Linked DNA regions of Homo sapiens: all the other regions are linked to region 2. The links come from fine-mapping of genetic effects on gene expression. Tissue or cell type: whole blood. Region 2 holds a variant in brackets; each other region holds the start of a gene. All regions are shown on one strand. Distances are between the middles of the regions.

The links. PIP is the estimated chance that this variant, and not a neighbour inherited with it, causes the effect.
Region 1: TMX1 starts here. The variant in region 2 is fine-mapped to the expression of TMX1 in whole blood (TOPMed, PIP above 0.99).
Region 3: PYGL starts here. The variant in region 2 is fine-mapped to the expression of PYGL in whole blood (TOPMed, PIP above 0.99).

The regions. Positions count from the first base shown.
Region 1 is chr14:51,236,722-51,244,827 of GRCh38, reverse strand. TMX1 (thioredoxin related transmembrane protein 1) reads right to left here and starts at 4,581. Exons shown (of 8, transcript NM_030755.5): 1 at 4,384-4,581; 2 at 857-972. The coding sequence starts at 4,535. It overlaps LOC124900346 (small nucleolar RNA SNORA70), which reads right to left and starts at 738; the gene lies at 604-738. RefSeq lists an enhancer at 4,303-4,542 and a silencer at 4,403-4,745.
Region 2 is chr14:50,963,287-50,971,392 of GRCh38, reverse strand. No RefSeq gene overlaps it. Among named protein-coding and RNA genes, the nearest start is that of PYGL, 23 kb to the right of the region's middle. The variant T/A (reference allele first, on the strand shown) is at 3,297.
Region 3 is chr14:50,939,918-50,948,023 of GRCh38, reverse strand. PYGL (glycogen phosphorylase L) reads left to right here and starts at 3,541. Exons shown (of 20, transcript NM_002863.5): 1 at 3,541-3,863. The coding sequence starts at 3,621. It overlaps LOC124903314 (a long non-coding RNA gene), which reads left to right and starts at 5,434. Exons shown (of 2, transcript XR_007064163.1): 1 at 5,434-5,915; 2 at 6,819-7,223. LOC400212 (a long non-coding RNA gene) reads left to right here. Exons shown (of 4, transcript NR_170195.1): 3 at 257-376; 4 at 1,560-1,734. RefSeq lists a silencer at 3,362-3,521 and an enhancer at 4,190-4,713.

The DNA of each region.
Region 1 (8,106 bases), 270 kb before region 2:
CTGATATTACAGAGAATTGACCTGTGCCTCAGTTTTCTTATCTGTGAAATGGGGACATTACATATTTCACGGGGTTGTATAAGGATTAAATAATAAACACAAGATATTTGGAAGAGTGCTATAATAGGCAAGCGCTCGATAAATATTACCTATTATTACCATTTGGGATGGGACAGCCAAGAATCCAAGGGTAGTGTGACTACCGAGAACGGTAAGATGAGATTGGTCTGTGGAAGGAACCTCCTTAAGGGCAGGACCTGCCACTTGTCCAGGGACCAAGTCAGGAGTGCACTTGACCTCACAACCACGAGGGCTTTATATTTAGAAGCCCACATCCTCAAATCATAGGTACTAAATTTAAAACTCAATTTCAGAGATTCAGGTCTTCTTTTGTCAGGGAACGTGACCTTGACTCCAGAAAAACACTCAACCACATGCTCCTTATTCTGAAGCCTGGTATGGATGCAAATGTGGCTTGGCCAATGTTCACCTGAACCACAGTGTCCTAGGACTTCTCAAAGGCATCTTACATACTAGTCTGGGGCCTGGGATGCAAAGAACAACAAATCAGAGGCAGTTATGTGGGCAAGAATAAAAAGAGGGTAATGTCTTCAAGAACCCTTAAAGCAACACATTCAAGAAATGAGGTGTATACACAACCAGGGAATCTCCATTTTGCAACCATTGCACACTGAGCCCCCAGCAGGGAGGTGGACAAGTCAGGTTAACTAGCTGCAGACTGTTAGGTTTTCAAAACCTAAAGAAAGGTAGAATTAAGACTATGCAATGTAGAAAAAAGGATAAATATATCAACCCAAACAGCAAAGAAACAAAACTAACCAAAGACTTACAGTACCTGGCTGCTCTGTGACATCTACTTTCGCAATATTAACCTCAAGATCTTCTCCCCATTCAGCAAAACTTTCCCATTCCGGTTGAAGATTTTGACAAGCAGGGCACCACGGGGCATAACTAAGAAATACAGATTTTTTTTTAAAAAAAGTTAAGCACTTTAGTATGACCATTTATCTTGGGATAAAAAATTTAAATGTATAATTTATGAAGAATATTTCATATGAAAACACTGAAGATGATAAGGTGGTTAATTTTATGCAGATGAAAAACTTTTAAGGGTAGATCTAACAATCCGGAAATCAAGAATGATGAACTGATGATGCTAATCAAATAAAATTCTGAGAATAAGACACAGGATTTTTTCACATGCAAAACAGCTCTTTAGAAAACTTTTGCATTTCTCTATTAACGGTGTGGCCACCAGAAAGCTCAAGACCAAAGTTAGAGCTTACCAATTTTAATAATTTATAATGCAGAGTCACAAATGCAAGGTGTTGGAAAAACAGAAGTGTCCTGGGCTGTGGTGAATAAGAAAGCACATATTCCATCTTAAAGTGGCAACCATTATTAAGTAGGATTGCCACTAAGGATGCTGGCACACTAAGGCTGGCTATTCATATTTAAAAGAAGATGGAGAGCTGCATTTTTATATGAGAATGTTACCTCAAAAAATAACCCACACACAAATACTAAGCAGGCCAAACAAAACTCTTGGCCAGTTAGGTCATCCTGTTTCCAAGACCTTGGATTTACAAATGCAAGCATATTAGCATTTAAATTACTCCTCTGGTATTATCTCCTGAGGATCTTATTTTTCCACTTTATTGTATTTTATCTTATAATACACCACAGGGTTGTTCTTTTTTTTTTTTTTTTTTTAACAGAACCAGGAAGAATAAAGCCTAAAGCAGTTAAACACAAAACTATACTTTCTGTACTTCACATTTTCTTCACTTGTTTTATGAAAACCAAACTCCTAAAATAGACATTGTAGAACAAGACAAACTGGTAGTATAAAAGCCAAGCTCCTAACAATAAATCGTATTACAATGAAAATATCTCCATGACAAAACTTCTGAGCAGAAATGGATTTACTGTAGATAATTCACTTGTAATTAGGAGCAGACTATTACTAAAACTACTAGAGTCCTTCTTTTTCAGGTTCGTTTTGTTGCTCAGTTGCTTTTTTATTTTTTGAAACAGGGTCTCGCTTTGTTACCCAGGCTGGAGGGCAGTGGCGCCATCTGGGCTCACTGCAACCTCAACCTCCCGGGCTCAAGACATCCTCCCACCTCAGCCCAAGTAGCTGGGACTACAGATGCCTGCCCACACGCCCAGCTAATTTTTCGTATTTTTTTGTAGAGACTGGTTTTTGCCATGTTGCCCAGGCTGTCAGTTGCTTTCTAAAAACTTACTTTAGAATCTCTACTTAAGGAAAAAGAAAAACTACTACTCTATAGCATAATTTCAGATAGATGCTCCAATGTGGATTTACCTCATACTCAATGTTTTGTTAGTCTTGTTCTCCTTAATACTACTTCTGATTGCTGTATTTATATAGTTGGACCATAATGAGTTAAAAAATATCCTTGAGTAATACTTGACTGTATTTTGCATATACACACACGATCACTATTGCTTAATATATTGCTTATAACACTATTTTACAGGCACGATCTAAAACAAGTTACTCATGATGATGACTGAAAAAGTGTCACAGTTCCTCTCCCCTGAAGCTTTCAATGGTGCCTGAATGAAAATTCATTTCAGAATTGCAGACTACATGCATACTATGAAAATTTCCCTTTATCTTACCCTCCATATAAATGTTCTACTTTTTTTTTGAGATTGAGTCTCACTCTGTCGCCCAGGCTGGAGTGCAGTGGTGCGACCTCGGCTCACTGCAACCTCTGACTCCCAGATTCAAGCGATTCTTCTGCCTCAGCCTCCCGAGTAGCTGGGACTACAGGCGCGTGCCACCACGCCCAGGTAATTTTTTGTATTTTTAGTACAAACGGCGTTTCACCGTGTTAGCCAGGATGGTCTCGATCTCCTCACCTCGTGATCCACCGGCCTCGGCCTCCCAAAGTGCTGGGATTACAGGCGTGAGCCACCGCGCCGGCCAGTTTTGTTTTTTTAAAAAATAACACAGGACTTACTGATTTAGCCTTCTGGGTTCTCCCTTGGGGATGTCACTTTCACTGGCCTCCTTAACTTGACAACCCTTGCTGTATTCGTGACACAAGAAAACACTCACCTGAACCCTGTTGTCTTTTCATTTTTATTTATTTACTTATTTATTTTGCTAGTTGCCCAGGATCTCTTGAACCCCTGGGCTCAAGTCATCCTCATACCTCAATCTCCTGGGTAGCGTACGCCACTTCCAGCTGAACCTTTTTAAAGAAGAAGGTGTTCTAACAACAATTATTGTATGCCTACTCTGAAGACCCAAAGAAAGCCAGCACAGCAATATCTGCATAGGTTAACTAAAGTATTTAGGTATCTTGTTACTCATTTGTAAAACGTGAAAAACACCTGTCATAGAGAATTTGTAGGGAATTAAATATGGTATTCGTGTAAAGGTGCTTAGTGGTGTCCAGTACACTGTTAATAATTATGCTTTTACTATTATCAGTAAATACTGCTAATATGTATAATACCACCATCAACAACGACTTAGCATCTAAAGCAAAGACAGATACTTTATTTCCCACCGCGGCAGAACAGATATTATTAAATTGAAATCACCACACAAAATACATGATTTCGTTCGAGCAATAAATGATGACCTGGCGCTCTTGAGAGTGTATACATTAATACATTATCTTTTAATGTAATACCATTTACAAAGACCTAGGAGTCACAACCCAAGGTATTCTCTACACTACAAAGACACCCAAAGGAAAAATGAGATGAGGAGTGAAAAAAAGAGAAAGCAAAAGAGGAGGCAAAAAGAGAAAACGAAAACTTAAAAATAACCCAACTTGAATTGACTCAGTATTTACAATAAAAAAGAAACGTACCCAATCCATTAAAAAAAGCTTAAAAGCGCCAAATTCCAACACCATAAAGAGACTATCTTTTAAGGACAGACAAAACGAGAGGAGAAATTTTGCTCAATATTCTCTTATGTAAAATGTGGTGAAAATAAGTGTAGAAGTCTGTGAAGAATCACTTTAACTACTTAGACACGAGTCGGACACCTCCCTCCCCGCGCCCCAGTCGCATCCTCAAAGTCATGAAAAATGTCAGAATTCGCATTGGCACTAACCCTTTGGGCGCACCACAACCCAAGAAACGAAACGAGGGTGCACCCCAGAAGAAACTTAACATTCACGGGTAAGAGACGAGGGGGTGGGACCAAGCTGGCGGCAGATCCCAAGAGTTTGGGGAGCTGCAGAAGTCGGGGACGCTCGCTCCGCAACTCGGAGGCGCAGTCCTGGGGAGCCTGCGACCCGCACGAGGAACGTGCGGGGTGAAGTCGTGTGTCCAGGCACGGACGTAGGACCCTGGCCGCCCCGCACTCACAATTCTATCATCCAGTCTCCTTCCAGCAGTTCTCTCCAGTTCTCGTCCGTGATGACGCGAACGTTGCTCCGCCGCCCGTGCGTCCAGGGAGCACCCCAAAGCAACAGCACCAGGACTGCCAGGGGAACTGCAAGACTCCCGGAGGGCGCCATTTCGCCGCTTGCCCACCTCACAGGGAGCGCGGTCGCAGCTCCCACTTCCGCCCTCGCGGGCTGCTCAGCGCAAGCGCACTACGGTGCTGCGAGGAGCGCCTGTCTAGAGGACTCTCAATGCGCATGACAGGGGTCTGATCCCAGTGAGTGGTGAAGTCGGGAAAGAGGGAAGAACGACTCTCCGCAATGCGCATGACAGAAAAGCGGCTGCTTCTACCGCCTAGGGTGTCCCAATATTGTGGGGGAAGGAACAGAGCAAAAGGAGGCGTGGTGTAAAAAGTGGGGCGGTGCTTTGAGGAAGAACGGTTTAAAAGACCCTCCCAGGATTTTGGCGCCAAATGGTTAGCGTTTACAAGCAAATTGGTAAGTTTATAATGTGCTAAAGCAGTTTTCCAATTAAATGTCCTTCAGAGTTCTCATTTGTTTTCTTTGAAACATGTAGTAAAGCTAATGGATTTTATAGGAGTCGGAATATTGGTTTACTTCTGAGAGATTATAGACAGGGAAGGTGCAGAGGAACATTATGGTTATGTTGGATGTGTTGGAGGTGTTCAACATCTAGATATGAACAGTAGTTACATGGGCGTACGTATATGATTTTTTTTAAAGAAGGATCAAGCTGTACATTTTAAGACAGTGCACTTTATGCACTTTCAGGTGTATGTTATCTCTCAAAAAAAATTCAGTAGGTACAGAGATCCTAGGTCAGTACTTCAAAATGGAACCAGACACATAGGCTTGTAAGATATTTGAGTTTTTTCTCTCAAACATTCGTAAATACAAATGCAAACCAAAATGTGCACTGCCCCATCAGTCAAATGAAAATAGTTGCAGGTGCGGTGGCTCACGCCTGTAATCCTAGCAAAACAGGGAGGCCAAGGCAGGCGGATCACTTGAGGTCAGGAGTTTGTGACCAGCCTGACCAACATAGTGAAACCCCGTCTCTACTAAAAATACAAAAATTAGCCAGGCGTGGTGGCAGGCGCCTGTAGTCCCAGCTACTCAGGAGGCTGAGGCAGGAGAATCGCTTGAACCCGGGAGGCGGAGGTTGCAGTGAACCGAGATCATTCCACTGCACTCCAATCTGGGCTATAGAGAGAGACTAAGTCTCAAGGAAATAGTTGCCACTATCTTACCTCACCTTTTCAACTTAATTAACCCCAATTAGTCCCCTTCCCCACCCCTCCACTGAATAGCCCTCTCAAGGACACCAGCGACCAGCAAGATAAATCCCAATTGTTTCTTCTCAATGCATCTAGCATGACTCCTAGCCCCATTCTACCACACCCTTGAAACACTTTACTATCTTGCTGTCTGGGCAGCTCGCTTTTTTTTCTGTCCTACAGTAGCTGATTCTTCTCAAACTTCTTGGCTGGTCCTCCTTTACTTCCGGACATCGGCATCTCCAGGATGCTTTACTGCCCCCCGCCCCCCATCTCCCGCCACCTTTCTCTTCATATCATCAGGCTCTCATCTTTCTGGGAACTACAGGCATATGTATTCAACTGTATATCATTCAGACTCTGATCTTTCTGGGAACTACAGGCATATGTATTCAACTGTATATCATTCAGACTCTGATCCTTCTGGGAACTACAGGCATATGTATTCAACTCCTTGCTAAACATCTCTTGGGTATGTAATAGCTGGTGAAAGGAAAAGAAATCTTGGGGCCCCAAAATCATTAAGCTAAAGGGAAAAGTCAAGCTGGGAACTGCTTAGGGCAAACCTGCCTCTCATCCTTCTTCTCACTGAGATAAATGCATATCTGATTGCCTCCTTTGGAAGGCTAATCAGAAACTTAGAAGAATGCCACCATTTGTCTCTTACCCACCTATGACCTGGAAGCCCCTTCCTGGCTTCGAGTTTGTCCCGCCTTTGCTTTGAGTTGTCCCACCTTTCCAGGCCAATACAATGTTCATCTTACATATGTTGATTGATGTCTCATGTCTCCCTAAAATATATAATATAAAATCAAGCTGTGCTCCACCCACCTTAGGCACATGTCCTCAGCACCTCCTCAGGCTATGTCATGGGCGCGCATTCTTAATTTTGGCAAAATAAACTTCCTAAATTGACTGAGACCTGTCTCAGATTTTGGGGGTTCAGAAGCTCAAACATCAAACGGCCAAAAAAGATAATTCTTGATTCTTCCTCTCCTGGTCTTCCATCCACTAAAGAGCCCCGAGGTTCACCAGGTTTCTCTAGCCAAACATGTACATGTTAATTCTTTATTGTTCTCTCTCTTCACCTTCTCCTCTTGTAACCTATGAGCAAATCTTGTAAACGTTACCTTCAAAACGTATCCTGAATCTGACCACCAATTTCCATCTCAACAGCCAACACCCTAGTCCAGAGTTTTCTTGCCTTGAGTACAATGAGAACTTCCTAAATTTGTGAGAAAATAAATTTCTATTGTTTAAGCCACCCAGTCTATGATATTTTATTATGGCAGCCCAAGCTAAGACACTAGACCTCCATTACAATGTTGAATAGAAATGGCAAGAGTGGCCAAACATACTTATCTTGTTCCTGTTCTTAGGAGAAAAGCGTTGTCTTTTACCACTAAGTATGATGTTAATGTGAATTCTAAATAGTTGCCTTTTATACAGGTGAGGAAGTTTCCTTCTATTCCTAGAAGGTCGTCTGTTTTTATCTTGAAGAAGTGTTGAATTTTGACAAATCCTTTTTCTGCATTTATTGAAATGACCATGTGGTTTTTGTCCTTTACTCTATTGATATGGTGTTTTTTTTGTTTTTTTTTTTTTTTTTTTTTTGAGACGGAGTCTTGCTCTGTCATTAGGCTAGAGTGCAGTGGTGTGATCTCAGCGCACTGCAACCTCCGCCTCCTGGATTCAAGCAATTCTCTTGCCTCAACTCCCGAGTAGCTGGGATTACAGGCACGTGCCACCACGCCCAGGTAATTTTTATATTTTTAGTAGAGACGGGGTTTCACCATGTTGGCCAGGATGGTCTCTTTCTCTTGACCTCATGATCTGCCTGCCTCAGCCTCCCAAAGATACAGTGTATTACATTGATTGATTTTGGGACATGAAATCAACCTTGCATTCTTGGTATAAATCCCACTTAGCCATGGTGTATAATTCTTTTTATATATTGCCACATTCAGTTTGCTAGTATTTTGTTGCATATTTTTATGTCTATATTCCTTAGAGATATTGGTCTGTAGTTTTCTTGTAATGTCTTTGGTTTTGCTATCAGGATATAACTGGCCTCGTAAAATAAGCTGGGAAGTGTTCCCTCCTTTTCTATTTTTTGGAAGTGTTTGTGAAGAATTTGTATTAACTCTTCTTTAACTGTCTGATAGAGTCTAGCAGTGAAGTCACCTAGGCCTGGGCTTTCCTTTGTAGGTAGCTTTTAAATTACTAATTCAATCTCTTGTTATAAGTCTACTATGATTTTCTATTTCTTCTTGAGTTGGTTGTGGTAGTTTGCATCTTTCTAGGAATACGTCCATTTCATGTAAGTTGTCTAATTTGTTGGCCTAACGTTGTTCATAGTATTATAATCCTTTTTATATCTGTAACATTGATATTAATGTCCTCTCTTT
Region 2 (8,106 bases):
CCCTCCTGTATTATCCTTGTTCATACATCACAGCCATCTGTTTTCTTCCCTAATTAAATGGAACCATCTTTATCTTATCTAAACCCACTTCTAGTAGCAAAGATTTATTGACTTTTTGATTTATTGTTAGGCTTCCATTTAACAAACAATTTTTAAGGAAAGATGGAGGTATTAAATATGAACTACTCTACACTCTGTTTCTGAACTGTGTTTTCAACCTAGTAGTTTAATTAGTTTAAAATGAGCAAATCACCTGCAGTAAATGAGGATCCTAATTGTTCCTGCCGTAATGCTGATTTTCATATGGGATCTCAACGTATTTTCCTAATTGCCTGGTGGGCACTGTTTCTCTCAGATGTGAAGAAATATGTCTGCAGGCTTATTGGTTGGGCAGGCTTGAAATGATGACTAGGTGAAGGTTAATTGTAGCTTCTCAAGAGGTTGATTTTATCATTGGCATTTTGGCAGAAATAACAGGCTTTGCAGAATACGCAAACTTTATCTAGGTGTAGTGTTGTATTAAGACCTGATACACCAGCAGAAAACCACAAATTTCTTTATAGGAAAGAAATCACTCAGTCTTTAAAATTTCTGAGGTCCAGCCAAACCTCCATGCCACTATCAAATTCCACATCTTCAAGATTTCAAGTCAGACCAAGAATTAACACATATGCTGAGGCTAAGCTAGCTATCATCCTAGCTAAGGGGACACTTTGCTTTGATATTAAGAGAATCTGAGCATCTGCTCTCCTTGCCTTAGGGATGGGGAAAGCGAGAATCCCAAGGAATCAGATGAAACACTGAGTCTATTTTTTTTTTTTGAGACGCAGTTTCGCTCTTGTTGCCCAGGCTGGAGTGTAATGGCATGATCTCGGTTCACCGCAACCTCTGTCTCCCAGGTTCAAGCGATTCTCCTGCTTCAGCCTCCCAAGTAGCTGGGACTACAGGCATGTGCCACCAAGCCCAGCTAATTTTGCATTTTTAGTAGGGACGGGTTTTCTCCATGTTGGTCAGGCTGACCTCAAACTCCAAGGGGAGTTGGGATGTGAAATCAGGGGCCCAAAAGAGTACAGGATACAAGGGTGCACCCAGTGACCAGGAGATTCACACGCATCACACACCATGCTTTTTGTTTTGTTTCCCTTTTTTCCTTTTTTTTTTCCTTTATGCATCAAGCTTCATTTCTAAGCTCTTGCCAGGTGTCTGGCAGTAACCAAAGGAAGCTTTATAATACATGGGGTGCACTCCTAGTAAACAATGTCAAAGACACTGTAAAAGGAGAACAACTAAGGAACATCAGTTGTCCCACAAAATTGATCTGACCCAATATGATATTTTTCATGGTCTGAATCCTTCTAGGGCTAGACTAATAATAGCAATTACAATTTTCTTATTTCTCAGATGCAAGGGTTGTGTTTTGTGTTTCTGTTTTGAGAGACAAGGTCTCACATTGTCACTCAGGTTGGCACGCAGTGGCATGATCATAGTTCACTGCAGCCTCAAACTTCTGGGCTCAAGGGATCCTCCTGACTCAGCCTCTTGAGCAGCTGGGACTACAGGCACATACCACCACTACTGGCTAATTTTAAAATTTTTTGTAGGGATGGAATCTTGCTATGTTGCCCAGTCTGGTCTTGAACTCCTGGTCTCAAGGGATCTTCCTGCCTCGGGCTTCCAAAATGCTGGGATTAAAGGCGTGAACCACCAGACCCAGCTGGTTTTTTTGTTTTGTTTTTTACACCTTAACATCTCTCAAATCAAGACACATCTTACAACACATGTCAAAAGAAACTCTTTAGGCTGGGAGCGGTGGTGGCTCACGCCTGTAATCTCAGCACTTTGGGAGGCCAAGGCGGGTGGATCACTTGAGGTCAGGAGTTCGAGACCAGCCTAGCCAACATGGTGAAACCCCCCGTCTCTACTAAAAATACAAAAATTAGCCGAGTGTGATGGTGCATGCCTGTAATCCCAGCTACTCAGAAGGCTGAGGCGGGAGAATCGCTTGAATCCGGGAGGTGGAGATTGCAGTGAGCTGAGATTGTGCCACTGCACTCCAGCCTGGTGACAAAGCGAGACTCTGTCGCAGAAAAAAAAAAAAAGAAAGAAAGACACTCTTCAGCCATTGATAGAGTGGTGGTTCTCAGCCTCCACTGCACACTGAAATCATCTGGGGAACTTTAAGAATACTGATGCTGCCGGGTGCGGTGGCTCACGCCTGTTATCCCAGCACTTTGGGAGGCCGAGGAGGGCGGATCACGAGGTCAGGAGATCGAGACCATCCTGGCTAACACAGTGAAACCCTGTCTCTACTAAAAATACAAAAAAAATTAGCCGGGCGTGGTGGCGGGCACCTGTAGTCCCAGCTACTCCGGAGGCTGAGGCAGGAGAATGGCGTGAACCCGGGAGGCGGAGCTTGCAGTGAGCCGAGATCGCGCCACCGCACTCCAGCCTAGACGACAGAGCGAGATTCCGTCTCAAAAAAAAATAAAGAAAGAAAGAATACTGATGCCAGGTTACTAATTTAGTTGGTCTAAGATGCAGCCTGAGAATCTGGAATTTGTAAGGTGATTCTAATGTGTGTCTAGAGCTGACAGCCCAGAGGTAAGGAATGAGTGGGTAGTGTATACTCAGCAAAGTTTTTATTGCCTACACATTTGGAAAAACAATAAGATGGGGGGCATCATCTTATAACCAACAAAGTGGATCCCTCAAAACATGAAGTCTTTCCATGTTCAGTGTCATGAAGCCAATACACAAAACTAAAATTGTCAAGTAGAGCAGGCTTTATTCAATGGCCATGGAATTAAGAAGTGGAAGCATGGCTCACAAATCAACTTCTTGACCAGTGAGGGGTGAGGGGTGCAAATAAAGAGTTTCTCTAACGAAGAGGATGGACATTAAAAATGAAAAGAGGGGCCGGGCACGGTGGCTCACACCTGTAATCCCAGCACTTTGGGAGGCCAAGGTGGATGGATCACGAGGTCAGGAGTTCAAGACCAGCCTGGCCAATATGGTGAAACCCCTTCTCTACTAAAAACACAAAAATTAGCTGGGTGTGGTGGCACGCACCTGTAATCCCAGCTACTTGGGAGGCTGAGGTAGAAGAATCACTTGAACCTGGGAGGCGGAGGTTGCAGGGAGCCCAGATGGCACCACTGCACTCCAGCCTGGGTAACAGAGCAAGACTCTGTCTCAAAAAAAAAAAGAAAGGAAAATGAAAAGAGGAAGACTCAGGTCTTTTCTGGAAAGGGTCAGTGAACTTCCCAGAACTGGAGTGATGCCTTCCTCCTTTTTTG[T/A]CCTTTTATAGCTTCTTCTGGTCATTGTCCTAGCAATTGTCCACTGTTATGGTGATGGTCAGAGTGTCATTTAGCATGGAAATGAGATTATAATGAAGCCCGAGTTCTTTCTGAAGTCATTTGCTCAGCTATTTTGGTTCTAACCAGTCTCAACTGTTCCGGTTACAAAGGGAACTTTTTATTGCAGGCATCCTGTTTCTTAAAGCAGTGTTAGGGCAGAGCAGAAATTCAGCTATGTCACAGAGGCATTACACCAGCTAACAATTTCATCATTCTGTTACTTGTTATTTCCTTTGAAAGTTGATAAACTTAAATTCACATCTTAATTATCACTTAAAAGGTCTTTTAAAAGATCCCATTATAATGCAGTATAGAAATGAAAAAATATATTGTACATGCATAAAATTAATAATCATTCACTGGATAATATACAATTGAAATAGTCATACACTGGATAATATAATTAATAAAATTGTCAAGATGCTGAGAACAAATCACAAATTTTTGAAATCTAGGAAAAGTTTTTGGGACCAACTGATATGTGAAGAGCTATCATTCAGATGTCTAAATCTGTCAAAAGCTTCCAGCTACTTCCCAGAAGCTCTTTATTTCCTATTATTTATAATTCAGTTAACAGTAGCAATACAAACAAAATAGCCAAAAGAGAAATGCAAAAAAAAAAAAAAAAAGAAAAGAAAGAAAGAAAAAAACACACACATAATCCCACTGCATTCTTTAAATTATTCTGCAGCCTCACAAATATGCTAGCAAGGTCCAGATCTCGTGCAAGGGTAATCATTACATTACGTATAACTGCCAGTGGCCCTGCTTGATACAGAGGTACTTGGGGACCGAATTGTGTTTGTTAGTCTGAAGAGCAAAGTAGCATGTATTGTGGCAGATAATGCATGCTATTGTAAGTAGAGTTTTCCCAAGTGGTATATATTAAATGTTGAACTTGGCTTTGGTTTTCTCCAAAACAGTTCCATTTTTTTTTTTTTTTTTTTTTGAGACAGAGTTTCACTCTTATTGCCCAGGCTGAAGTGCAGTGGTGCGATCTTGGCTCACTGCAACCTCCACCTCCCGGGTCCAAGCAATTATCCTGCCTCAGCCTCCTGAGTAGCTGGGACTACAGGCACACGCCACCATGCCAGGCTAATTTTTGTATTTTTAGTAGAGACGGGGTTTCACCATGTTGGCCAGGCTGGTCTTGAACTCTTGACCTCAGGTGATCCGCCTGCCTCGGTCTCCCAAAGTTCTGGGATTACAGGCGTGAGCCACCATGCCCGGCCAAAAGAGCTACTATTAAGCCAGTAGTGCATCATACAATCTCTAACTAGAACTTCTTACAATTGAGAAATCCAATCACTCATCATATCCGCAGGTTCCACATGGGTGCATTGAAACAAGCTTGGGTTGAAAATGCTGGGAAGGAAATTAAAAAAACAAGAAAAATAATACAAATAAAAGGAATACAGCATAACAACTATTTACAAAGCATTTACATTGCATTAGGTATTATAAGTAATCTAGAGATTTAAAGTATATAGGAGGATTTGCATATGTTACATGCAAATGCTACACCATTTTATATCAGAGACTTAACTATCTGTGAATTTTGGTATCCCAGGGGTGTCCTGAAACCAAGGCTTCACGGATATGGAGAGACAACCGTGCTCTAATAATGTAAGTTGCCAAATATTGAATCTTATTGTTTTCCAGGCAATGTACCAAGGGCTTTTAGTGAATCATCTTACTTACCCTTCATCTTACTTATGCATTTTTATTATTACCATTTTAGAAATGAAGAAACTGAAGCACAAGAGGTTAAGCAACTTGCCCAAAGTCACACAGTATACAAGTATGACAGCCAGGGTTTGAACCCAAATAGTCTGACTCCAAGACACAGGCTCTTAACCTGTAGGTTATATGACATATGATTGCTACACATAGGATGTACCACAGACAACACACTCATTCATACGATTAATATTTAATGAGCACCTATTAAGTGATAAATGCTGTTGTAACAATGCTATTACTGGGAATACCAGTGAATAAAATAGACAAGGTCCCTACGTTCTTAGAGCTGATATTCAAATAGGGAAATAATAAGTAAAGATCAAAATCATTTTAAGTCTTAATAAATACAACACAGGAAATCCAACAGGCTATGAGATAGAGAGATATGGAAAAGTCAGCAATTACCTCTCTGAAGGGGTTATATTTGGGTTGAAGAAGCCAAGACCAAGGGAAGGGGTAAAGGCCTTGAGGCGGGAACAAGCCCAGTAAGTCAAAGAGTTAGTGAGGGTGAGGTGCATGCAGTGAGAGGAAGGAGGGTGGAGAGCCCAGCCTGCTGAGGTTATATGAAAATGCTACACCATTTTATATCAGGGACTTGAGTATCTGTGAATTTCAGTATCTCAGGGAGGTCCTGGAACCAATGCCCCCGCAGACACTGAGGGACCACTGCAGGGAGGCCCTGCCAGGCAGGTGTGCCAGATAGGAATCTTTGGCTACAAAAACACCCAACCTGACTGTGGCTGACCTAAAGGCATAGAAGGAATATGCGAGAAAGACATGGGGCAGCTCAGAAAGATGGGAACGAGGGCAGCTCTGGGGATCAAGGTAGCAGGAACTGATGAATATCGGGTCTTATCAGAGACTGCCAAGGGGGCGCAAAAGCTCCAGCTCATCCTCATTTTATTGTCTCACTGCTCAAGATTTAATTCCAGAAAGATGGTGTCTGGTTTTGCTTGTATCCTGGGTCTACCTCTTAGCTGAGGGAGGGCAGGACATCACCACTTAGAATTCCAGCCACTGAATCCAATTTGAGTGCTATTTCTAGAAAAGTAGGGATAGAGGCTTGGCAGCAAAATGAGCAAGGACCCCTGCACCATGATGAAGTATTTGGGCTTATTCCAAGTGTAGCAGGAAGCCACTGGTGGGTTTTAAGCAAAGTGAAGTGACAGGTTATATCTACGTAATGTTTTAAATAAATGAATGCTGTTTAGTCTGGGCCTTTAATTTCTGGGATTTTTTTTTTTTTCTGAACAAAAGTAAATGCTTTGGAAATGGCAGAAAGCTGGGAGACATTTACAATCGTAGCAGAGAATAAACAGTGAGAGGGGAGGTTCTCTTCTATATTGACTTTATGTCTCAGAATGTCAAATGCTCACAGCTGATCTAGCTCAAAAAACAACATAGCTTCTACAACTCGGTAGAAACTGGGACCACAGCCAACTTGACTTGACACGTCTTTCCCAAGAAATGAACACAAGAAATTGCTGCCTCTAAGCTACCAGAAACTGAGCTGGGAATTTTTTTCTGATATAAAGATCTACACAACTGGTTTCAAAATTTTTTTAATTCTTTGAATCTTATTCACCTGAAAATCTGTCTCGTGGACTCTGGGGTCACAAAAACCCAGTTCCCAGCCCAGGTCAATCACTTACTAGATGTGAGCTTAGACAAGGTAATTAACCTTAAACAATAGTTTTAGTTTATCATAAATTAGAGATAATAATATCCATATCCTAAGGTGGTTGTGAGGATTAAGTTAGAAAATATGCTGTGTCTAGTGCAGGAGGAACTCACGGAGATTCCTCTTGTTTAAGCTGTTTATCCTTGCAATGGAGAATGGTCAGTATATAATTAAACATACATTGCTATTACGTTCACAGTGAGGATGTGGAGGGGTAAAATGATTTACAAAGGGTTTTGATTTTGAGTAACTTAAAAAGATTTATAGTCCTTGAATATAGTTCCCACCAATACTTCTTAGGGCAGGTATTAAGAGTAACTGTTACTGTTACTGGAGTGCTCAGTGTGTCAGGCACTATTTGAAGCATTTCATATTTATTAACTCATTTAATTTATACAACAACATCATGTCATTGGATTACCATTATCCCCCATTGTAAAAATTAGGAAACTATAGCAAATAAAGTTTCTGTATTTGCCCAAGGCCACACAGCTGGTAACTGACAGAGCTGGAATTTAAACCCTTACATGTCGGTTCTAGGGCCTTCACTCTTTTTTTTTTTTTTTTTTTTTTTTGAGGCAGAGTCTTACTCCGTCGCTCAGGCCAGAGTGCAGTGGCGCGATCTCAGCTCACTGCAACCTCCACCTCCCAGGTTCAAGCATTCAAGCAGTTCTCCTGCCTCAGCCTACCAAGTAGCTGGGACCACAGACACCCGCCATCATGCCCAACTAATTTTTGTATTTTTAGTAGAGACAGGTTTTCGCCATGCTGGCCAGGCTGGTCTCGAACTCCTGACCTCAGGTGATTCGCCCACCTCAGCCTCCCAAAGTGCTGGGATTACGGGAGTGAGCCACCATACCCAGCCCTGGGGCCTTCACTCTTAACCATACTTTCCACATAGCAGAGAAGCACGAATCCACACATTCCCCAGCGAGCTGCTCCATCCCTTCCGTCCTCATATGCAAAGCTGTTCCACTTGGGATTTGGAGTAACAAATTAAAATTCCAGTTTTGTGTGTATTTTGTGGGTCCTCAAACATAGATTTGAATGATTTTCAAGTTTTAAATTGTGTTTAGCAGTAATTTATGTGAATATGCATTACCTGGAGGCAGAGACCATGTCTTCTTCAATATGACTCCATGCACCTATTGTTCCCTGTAAGCTGTTCCATGTGCACGTGAACAAACCAACCACAACTGCCCATGCACACACCTCTAATACTAAATACTGAGCAATGCTTCTCAGCTCCATCTGCTCACTACACTGGCATGTATGGCTTAAAGAAGATGTTATCAACTGGGATCAAAGAGTGGCTTTGGAGGAGAG
Region 3 (8,106 bases), 23 kb after region 2:
GCACTGCTGGATCTTCCTGGGACTACAGGGCTGTCTGAGATATGCCCTTCTACCCTTCCCTCTCTCTCCCCTTCACTCTAGGTCACACTGGCATCACAGTCTGATGCTCTCTCTGGCTAGCACTCCCCGTTTTTCCCTCCCACAAGCATTTACCCCAGTAAAAAATCTTAACATGTTTAATCCTGTTTTAGCTTCTGCTTCTCTGAAGACCCGAACTAACACACTACTTTCTCATGTTTTTTTGTATTTCCAACAGTGGGAAACTTACACTTGTCCTATGAGTTCTGGACTGTTTGTTCAGCTACTTACAAACGCCATTTCGTTACAGCAGCCACGGGGAAGCAGTGGATGAGAAGCAGGAATAATATAGGCCATTGTGAGTAAGGCTGCTATAAACATGTGAGCCACTGAAATCTGATACTTTTTCAGGGATCCATAGTTTCTGGTTCTTTCTGGTCAAGAGAGGCTAAAGGAAAGGTTTTTAAAGATATTAATTTTCTTAGTCAAGTAACTTAACCTCTCAAGGCCTCAGTGTCCTAGACTAGCACAGAACAAGCAGATGAAACAAAGTTTATATCAGAATGTCAACTGAAAAAGTATCATTTACCATAAATGGAAGATAATTGTATTAAATTCTAGTTAGATGCTAAAACTTCAAGAACTTTTAGAGTCTGTACCTGCATTCTGTTAAAAATATAGATTAAAAAATGCTAACATGTTAACACAAAGGACTTTCCAGAAAGACTTAAAGAAAAGTGAAAGGGGAATAACTGTCTTGCAATGTAATTCATTGTCGTTTAAGACTGGGTCTATGGAACACCCTAAATCACCTGGTTCCATCACGTTCTTTTTAACATGGAGATGGATAGTTTTTCCCCATACTCTATATATTGAGCATTCTATAGTTCATGATTTTTCTGCATAGAGAATTGTTCAAGCCGGGGGTGCAGGCTCACCGACTGGATAGTGAATCAAGAAAATAGTGTGTTCATTAGTTCATCATTACCCTGAGTTTCCAACAAGAATTTAGTACAGGAAAGTAGACAGCGGAGCTGGGAGCCATCTATTTGAAACTGTCTTAAGCAAAACTAAGAAACCGAGTAAGCTTGCTTTTGGTGTCTTTCATCCCTTCTTGTGTGCCCCCTAATTATTCACTCCCCAATGCCCAGACATTATGATGCCTTCTCCTGCTCAGAGACCTTTCTGGGAGGAAGACCTACTCAGACCTGGTATTCCCTCATCCTAGGCTCTACCCTATTTTTCATCCAGCTGTTAAAGCTGAGTGACTAATTTCACACTTATGTACGAATGACCCATAACTGGCTTAATGCTGTGACCATCTTGGGGGTATTCAAAGCTGATAAACACTTTTTTAAGTTATATAATAATCAAAGAAGCTTATCTTTCTGCTTTATTTCAAATTTCACCCCACAGGCCTTACTTATTTTTAAGATCAATGATTTTGATGGGCCCCCCCTTCCCACTCTTAATTCAGGGTATTTCTGGCCCCATCCGGATCCAAACTCTAATGCTCATCTCTTCCATACTGTCCTTTGCAGGTCATCGGTATTGCAAGAGTTGCATAAGGCCCAATTCAGTCTCTGCCCCAAAAGCTCAAGTCCAAACTTCAGAATCTGGGAGGACAAGGATTCAGGAAATTTTGTCAGAACTATGAGCTTTGAACTTTCACTTTTATGGTGAGGGTCACATTTGGTCTGAATCAATTAATCCATTACCCGCCCCCCCCCCCCCCCCCACCACCACCATGTGTGAATTCAAAATAATCAACTTGGGTTTATTATAAAAAACAAAATATATTAATATAAGTATACTAAGATTTTTCTAGAAAACTTGGCCGGGCGCGGTGGCTCACGCCTGTAATCCCAGCACTTTGGGAGACCGAGGAGGGCGGATCACAAGGTCAGGAGATCGAGACCATCCTGGCTAACACGGTGAAACCCCATCTGTACTAAAAATACAAAAAATTAGCCGGGCGTGGTGGCGGGCGCCTGTAGTCCCAGCTACTCGGGAGGCTGAGGCGGGAGAATGGCGTGAACCCGGGAGGCGGAGCTTGCAGTGAGCCCAGATCGCGCCACTGCACTCTGCCTGGGTAACAGAGTGAGACCCTGTCTCAAAAAACAACAAACAAATAAACTTAGAAGAATATATGTGACTATTGGCCGGGCGCGGTGGCTCACGCCTGTAATCCCAGCCCTTTGGGAGGCCGAGGCGGGCAGATCACGAGGTCAGGAGATAGAGACCATCCTGGCTAACATGGTGAAACCCTGTCTCTACTAAAAATAAAAAAATAAAAAATAAAAAATGCGAGGTGGCGGGCGCCTGTAGTCCCAGCTATTCAGGAGGCTGAAGCAGGAGAATGGCGTGAACCCGGGAGGCGGAGCTTGCAGTGAGCCGAGATCGCGCCACTGCACTCCAGCCTGGGCAACAGAGTGAGACTCCGTCTCAAAAAAAAAAAAAAAAGAAGAAGAAGAAAGAAAAAGAAAAGAAAAAGGAAAAAGAAAACTTAATTCTGGCAATGGACTGTTTCTAAAATAATATATTAATACTACTTAATGAGGAAGAAAAAACCTCTGACATCCTAAAATGCCAAGTGTTTGCCTTTACCAAGGTTTAAGCACACATAAACACGCATATTCAAATACCACCCAAAGTGGAGGTGCAAAGATCAGCCTGTACCGCACAGTAACACAGACTGGGTTGTTTTTTGTAAAGAAGGCAACTAGTCCAGTGAGTAATCCCTTCATTTTCCACACACATACCCTTCTGTTTTCTCCCTCTCCTCCCCCCACACCCTCCACTGCAGTTAAAACGTAATTCGAAGAAGCCTAAGGTAAAAGCCCCTGCCGCATAATGACCCTAGAGCTTCACCTCACCTACTCTGATTCTTAGTAACCTACCTCTAAGGATGAGAGACAGGGTGCTACGAGCGGGGCGAACTTTGGTCCAGGAGTTAAGAAACCTGAACCCTGGAGTCCTCAAAAAAAATGAATGAAAATAACAGAGGCGCCCTGAGGATCCAAGCTGGGGCGGTGCCAAGGGCTGGCAAGTGAGGTTGGGACAACAGAAGTCAAACGTGCCGTCCTTCCAGATCCCGGCGCTTATGGCGGAAGCCACTCCAGGTGAGAAATCCTAACAGTCATAATGGCATAACAAATAAACATCGGCAAAACAGCAGTCTGCCAACGACGTGCTTCCCTACACAGACGTCCTCCTGTCTCCACACTCTAGAGGGGAGAGGCGGAACAAATGCTGCCTCCGCAGATTTTGGAAATCCGGAAGGGAGCCTCCGAGCCCAGGTCCCGGGCTGGCAGGGGTCTCGCCGGCGCTTGGACCTCGTCTCCCACCCCCGAGCCCACTGCGGCCCCAGAGCCTCGGGAGGGGCCGGGCACTTCCTCTGCCCTCCGGCCTGGGGCAGGGGCCGGGACGCGGTGGGAGTGCAGCGGGGACGGCACCGCCCGAGGGGGCGGGCCCCAAACTTTCGTGCGCGTTGAAAGCTGCTGGCGCGGCGGGGCGGACTCCACCCCTGCCCGGCAGCCCAGCGCCTCCGGCCGCACTTCCAGCTCTCTGCGCAGCCCGCCGCGCAGCCCGCCGCCCCAGCCATGGCGAAGCCCCTGACGGACCAGGAGAAGCGGCGGCAGATCAGCATCCGCGGCATCGTGGGCGTGGAGAACGTGGCAGAGCTGAAGAAGAGTTTCAACCGGCACCTGCACTTCACGCTGGTCAAGGACCGCAACGTGGCCACCACCCGCGACTACTACTTCGCGCTGGCGCACACGGTGCGCGACCACCTGGTGGGGCGCTGGATCCGCACGCAGCAGCACTACTACGACAAGTGCCCCAAGGTAACCGGGGGCGGGACGGCGGGCCGGGGTCCAGCCCGGAGTCGGAGTCTCCGGCCGCGGCCGGGCGGGACGAGGTGGAGAACCCCTCAGAGTGGTCCCTTGCACCCGGTCCTTGCCCCGAAGTCCAGAGGAGACGTGTCTAGGCTGTGGGCGGGCAGCCTGGGGGACAGATTAGGCCTCCCAACAGACGCCGAACTCATGTCTCCGAGGTGCCACCCGCCAGTGTCCCGCCCAAACCACTGTGCCGTCCGCCCCTGGAAACCGCCAGGTGGGCAAAAGCCCAGGCCCCTCTCGCCTGTCCACTTCACAAACTTTTTTGGAACTTTGACTCTCAGCATTTAATCAAGAGGTGACGGGGGCCTCTTGTCCTGTATGCCGGACACTATTCTCTGCCCTGGACACTCAGCCCTAAACAAAAGGGACAAAAATCTTGCCTTGCTGGAGCTTGGTATTTTGGGAGGGGAGACAAACGCCGAGCTGGGAAAAGGTCGTAAGTCTCAGGCCTCTGGGAGTGGCTAAGTGTGGTGCAGAGGAGGGGCAGGGTCCCGCTCCAAGCGTAGAGCGCCGCCCACCCATTCTCCTGAGTGGGTGTAGCTCCTGGAATTCCGTGAGTCTTTCGCAAAGGCGGCCCAGGGCCAGGCAATGCCCTGGACTCGTCCTCCCCGAAGACACACACTCCCCCGACCCTTAGCCCTTCCACACCCGAGGCCTGCCCCCAGAGCTGCTGAGGAAGGCTGGTCAGGGACCACCTCCATCCACGGCGTGGGGGCGGGAGCAGAGACCTCCTTAGGGTGATTTTGGACCTACAGAGGGACAATATCTCTGCCTGACAGTTTGCGAAGAGGGCGAGAGGCAGTGGGGAAGGACTGGGGAGGACATGGCAGGGAGAGGGATTGTGTGCAGGCTGGAGTGAGGGCGGGTGTGAGTCTGTATTGGGAGAGGAAACTGGAGAAGCCAGGTAGAGACATATTGGAAAGAATAAAAGATTGGGATACATCCCAGGGGCAGTGGGAAATATATATAAACATTTATTAGAACTTTTTAATTATGTAAAGGTGTGAAGAAAAAAAAATGGTCTATAATCCCAGTGCCCAAGAAACCCCATAGGAATTTTTAAGAAAGGAAATGAATGTAAATTCTCATAGTAAGAAATTGCAACTGTAACAGTTTTCAAATGGAAAGTAACTCTTCTTCACCCCAAAGACCTAGGCCTCCACCAAGGTAGCAACTGCTAAAATGTATCCTTAAAAATTTAAATGCACCTTAGAAAACACTTTATGTATACATATATTTACTGTTTTGTTGTTTTGTTTTGTTTTGTTTTGTTTTGTTTTGTTTGAGACAGAGTCTCACTCTCGCCCAGGCTGAATGAAGTGCAGCGGCGCCATCTTGGCTCACTGCATCCTTCGCCTCCAGGGTTGAAGCGATTCTCCTGCCTCAGACTCTCGAGTAGCTGGGACTACAGGCTCCTACCACTACACCTGGCTAAGTTTGTATTTTTAGTAGAGACAAGGTTTCACCATGTTGGCCAGGCTGCTCTCAAACTCCTGGCCTCAAATGATCCTCCTTCCTTGGCCTCCCAAAGTGCTGGGATTACAGGTGTGAGCCACCACACTCGGCCACTATCTTTTAAAAATTTATTTACACAAAGGGAATGCTACTAAGTACACCATACTGCGCCTCTCATTAAAAATTATTTTTAACAATTTTAAGCGGAAGGGTGGGACACTGAGCATATATTAGAAACACACACTCACGCCTCTGTAGCATTTAGCATCATAGAGCACCAGAGAATCTTGTATGTTTTTCCTTCAGTGGCTTATGCAGTGCTTTATGGTTTTCCTGGTTCTCCGGCCAGTTTCTTCACTGGGCTCTCCTTTTCTACGTGAGTGCAGATATAAGCCAGGAATTCCGACGTGTGTAAATTCTGATAGCGATACACTGGGGATACAACAATGAACATGTTTCATTCCACACGTGTTCATCAAATATCTACTCCATCACAGTCGTCTGTCTAAACAGGATGGTTCCTGCCCTCATAAAGTAGAGCAAGTAGGTGTGTCCAAGCTCCTCTCCCACCTCCCTTGCTCTCCAATAACTGTGCAGATGAATCCCAAATATGGATCCCTAGTCTGAATTCCTTTTCTAACTCTATGCGTACATTTCTGAGTGTTTAGTGAACATATCTAGATATCTTCCTATTTCCTCAAACTCAGTACGTTAAAAACTCAAACCATTATTTCTCCCAATCCTGCCCCATCTTCCCGTGTTTTGTTTTGTTTTGTGACAGAGTCTCACTCTGTCACCCATGTTGGAGTGCAATGATGCAATCTCGGCTCACTGCAACCTCTGCCTCTCGGGTTCAAGTGATTCTCCTGCCTTAGCCTCCTGAGTAGCTGGGATTACAGGTGCATGCCACCATGCCCAGCTACTTTTTGTATTTTTAGTAGCGACAGGATTCCACCATTTGGACAGGCTGGTCTCGAACTCCTGACCTGGTGATCCACCCACCTCGGCCTCCCAAAGTGCTGGGATTACAGGCATGAGCCACCACGACTGGCCTCTGTGTTTTTTGTTTTCATGCCATTGTCATCTTGACAATCCAGACGCAAACTTTAGTCTCACTTTTTGCCGTTCAACTGTTTGCCAATTTCTGTTGATTTCTATAGGTTCCCTTGAATGACGTGCTCTCCTCCATTATCTCTTCCTGCCTTGGTGAGGCTCTAGCTACCCATTTGTTGCAGCTGACTTCACGTGGTTATTTTGCTTTCCAGAAGTGGTAAAACCGGCAGCCTGAGGCTGAATAAGGATAGCAGACATACTTTGTTGGCCAAGACATTTTTCAGGAATTTAATTTTTAGCGCCTGTGGTCAGGACTTGCACACTCCATTTCTTAGCCCAGTACTCTTCTTTGTTTTATGTGACCTCAATTACACATTTATTTTCTCTGCCTAGCTCCTGAAGGCATTTGAGTATATGATCCCGTCTCATTCTGTGCATTGTGGTCTGCTCAAGCTTCCTAAAGCAACGCATCTTGCCCCTGCTCAATTATCATTGGCTCCTCTTGCCTGCCATAGAACTTAAGCAAGTATTCGAAAGCACTTCTCAGTCCAGGTGGGCCTGTTCTTCCCTTGTTATCTTCCATTACCCTCTGTACCCACCTTGCTCTCCCAACAAACCAATCCCCACTCTGGGCCCCCGATTCACTTGCAGTGTCCTTCCTACCACATTTCTATGCTCAACTCTTGCCTGTCCTGCAAGTCTCAGGTTTATTGACAGGTGTTCCAGAGGTCTTCCCGGAAGTACCCAGGCCCTCTGACTAATGCTGGGGATAAAAATAAAACATACAATTTAAAAATATTTGTTATATCTTCTTTATTTTATTTTACAAGCCTTTTGAAAATATCCACTTTTTACATAAAATACTAGTAATCATAGTACATGCATGTAATTTATAAAGTATATTGGAGATGCTCATATATTTTACTATCAGTCATATGTAACAAATATTTAGAGACCAGTAAGTAAGAGTATGGCCAAGATCTATTTTTTGAAGTCTTATATATTCCCAAATATAAGGAGAGATTACCTCTAAGAAGTTATTTGTGAGAAAACAGGGAATCACCTTACGTTCCTGTCCTTATAAAGTCTGTCATGCAAGGAAGTATTTTCTCATTTACTTTATTCTGAGCAACCACATATCTCTCAAGAGAGACTTTGAAATATTTTTAAGAAGACTTAAGTTCGTGCTAATGTGGAATCATTAAAAAGGAGGCAAATTTAATACAGATGTAGTCATTATTCCTGGGGGTATAACCTCACAATTGCAAGTGTGGAATATATACTATATAAACAAGCTTTTTGTAGATTACTTAAAAGAAAAAGGCAAAACATCATGGTTATAGAGATAATGAAAATACACACATGGAAGGATTTTTTTAAACTGGGTAATACTATGCAAATGGGTATTTGTGGCTTAAGATACTATTACCTGTGACAGCGGTCATCACGTACTAGAGCACCAGCCATTGCCTATGTCTGCCCCAGAGAAGGTACTTTTATCCAATCATTCGAAGGTATCTAATAGCTGGTGAGGGTTCTAGTAACAGCATTATAGACATTCAAACAACTTGGATGAAAACGAAGATGATGTGTTCTGGAAAGCAGTGTTAGGTGGCCCGTTAGGTCATGGATGTTGACCATTTGTTGTGAAATTTAGAACTCAATTGTTCATAAAAGGAAA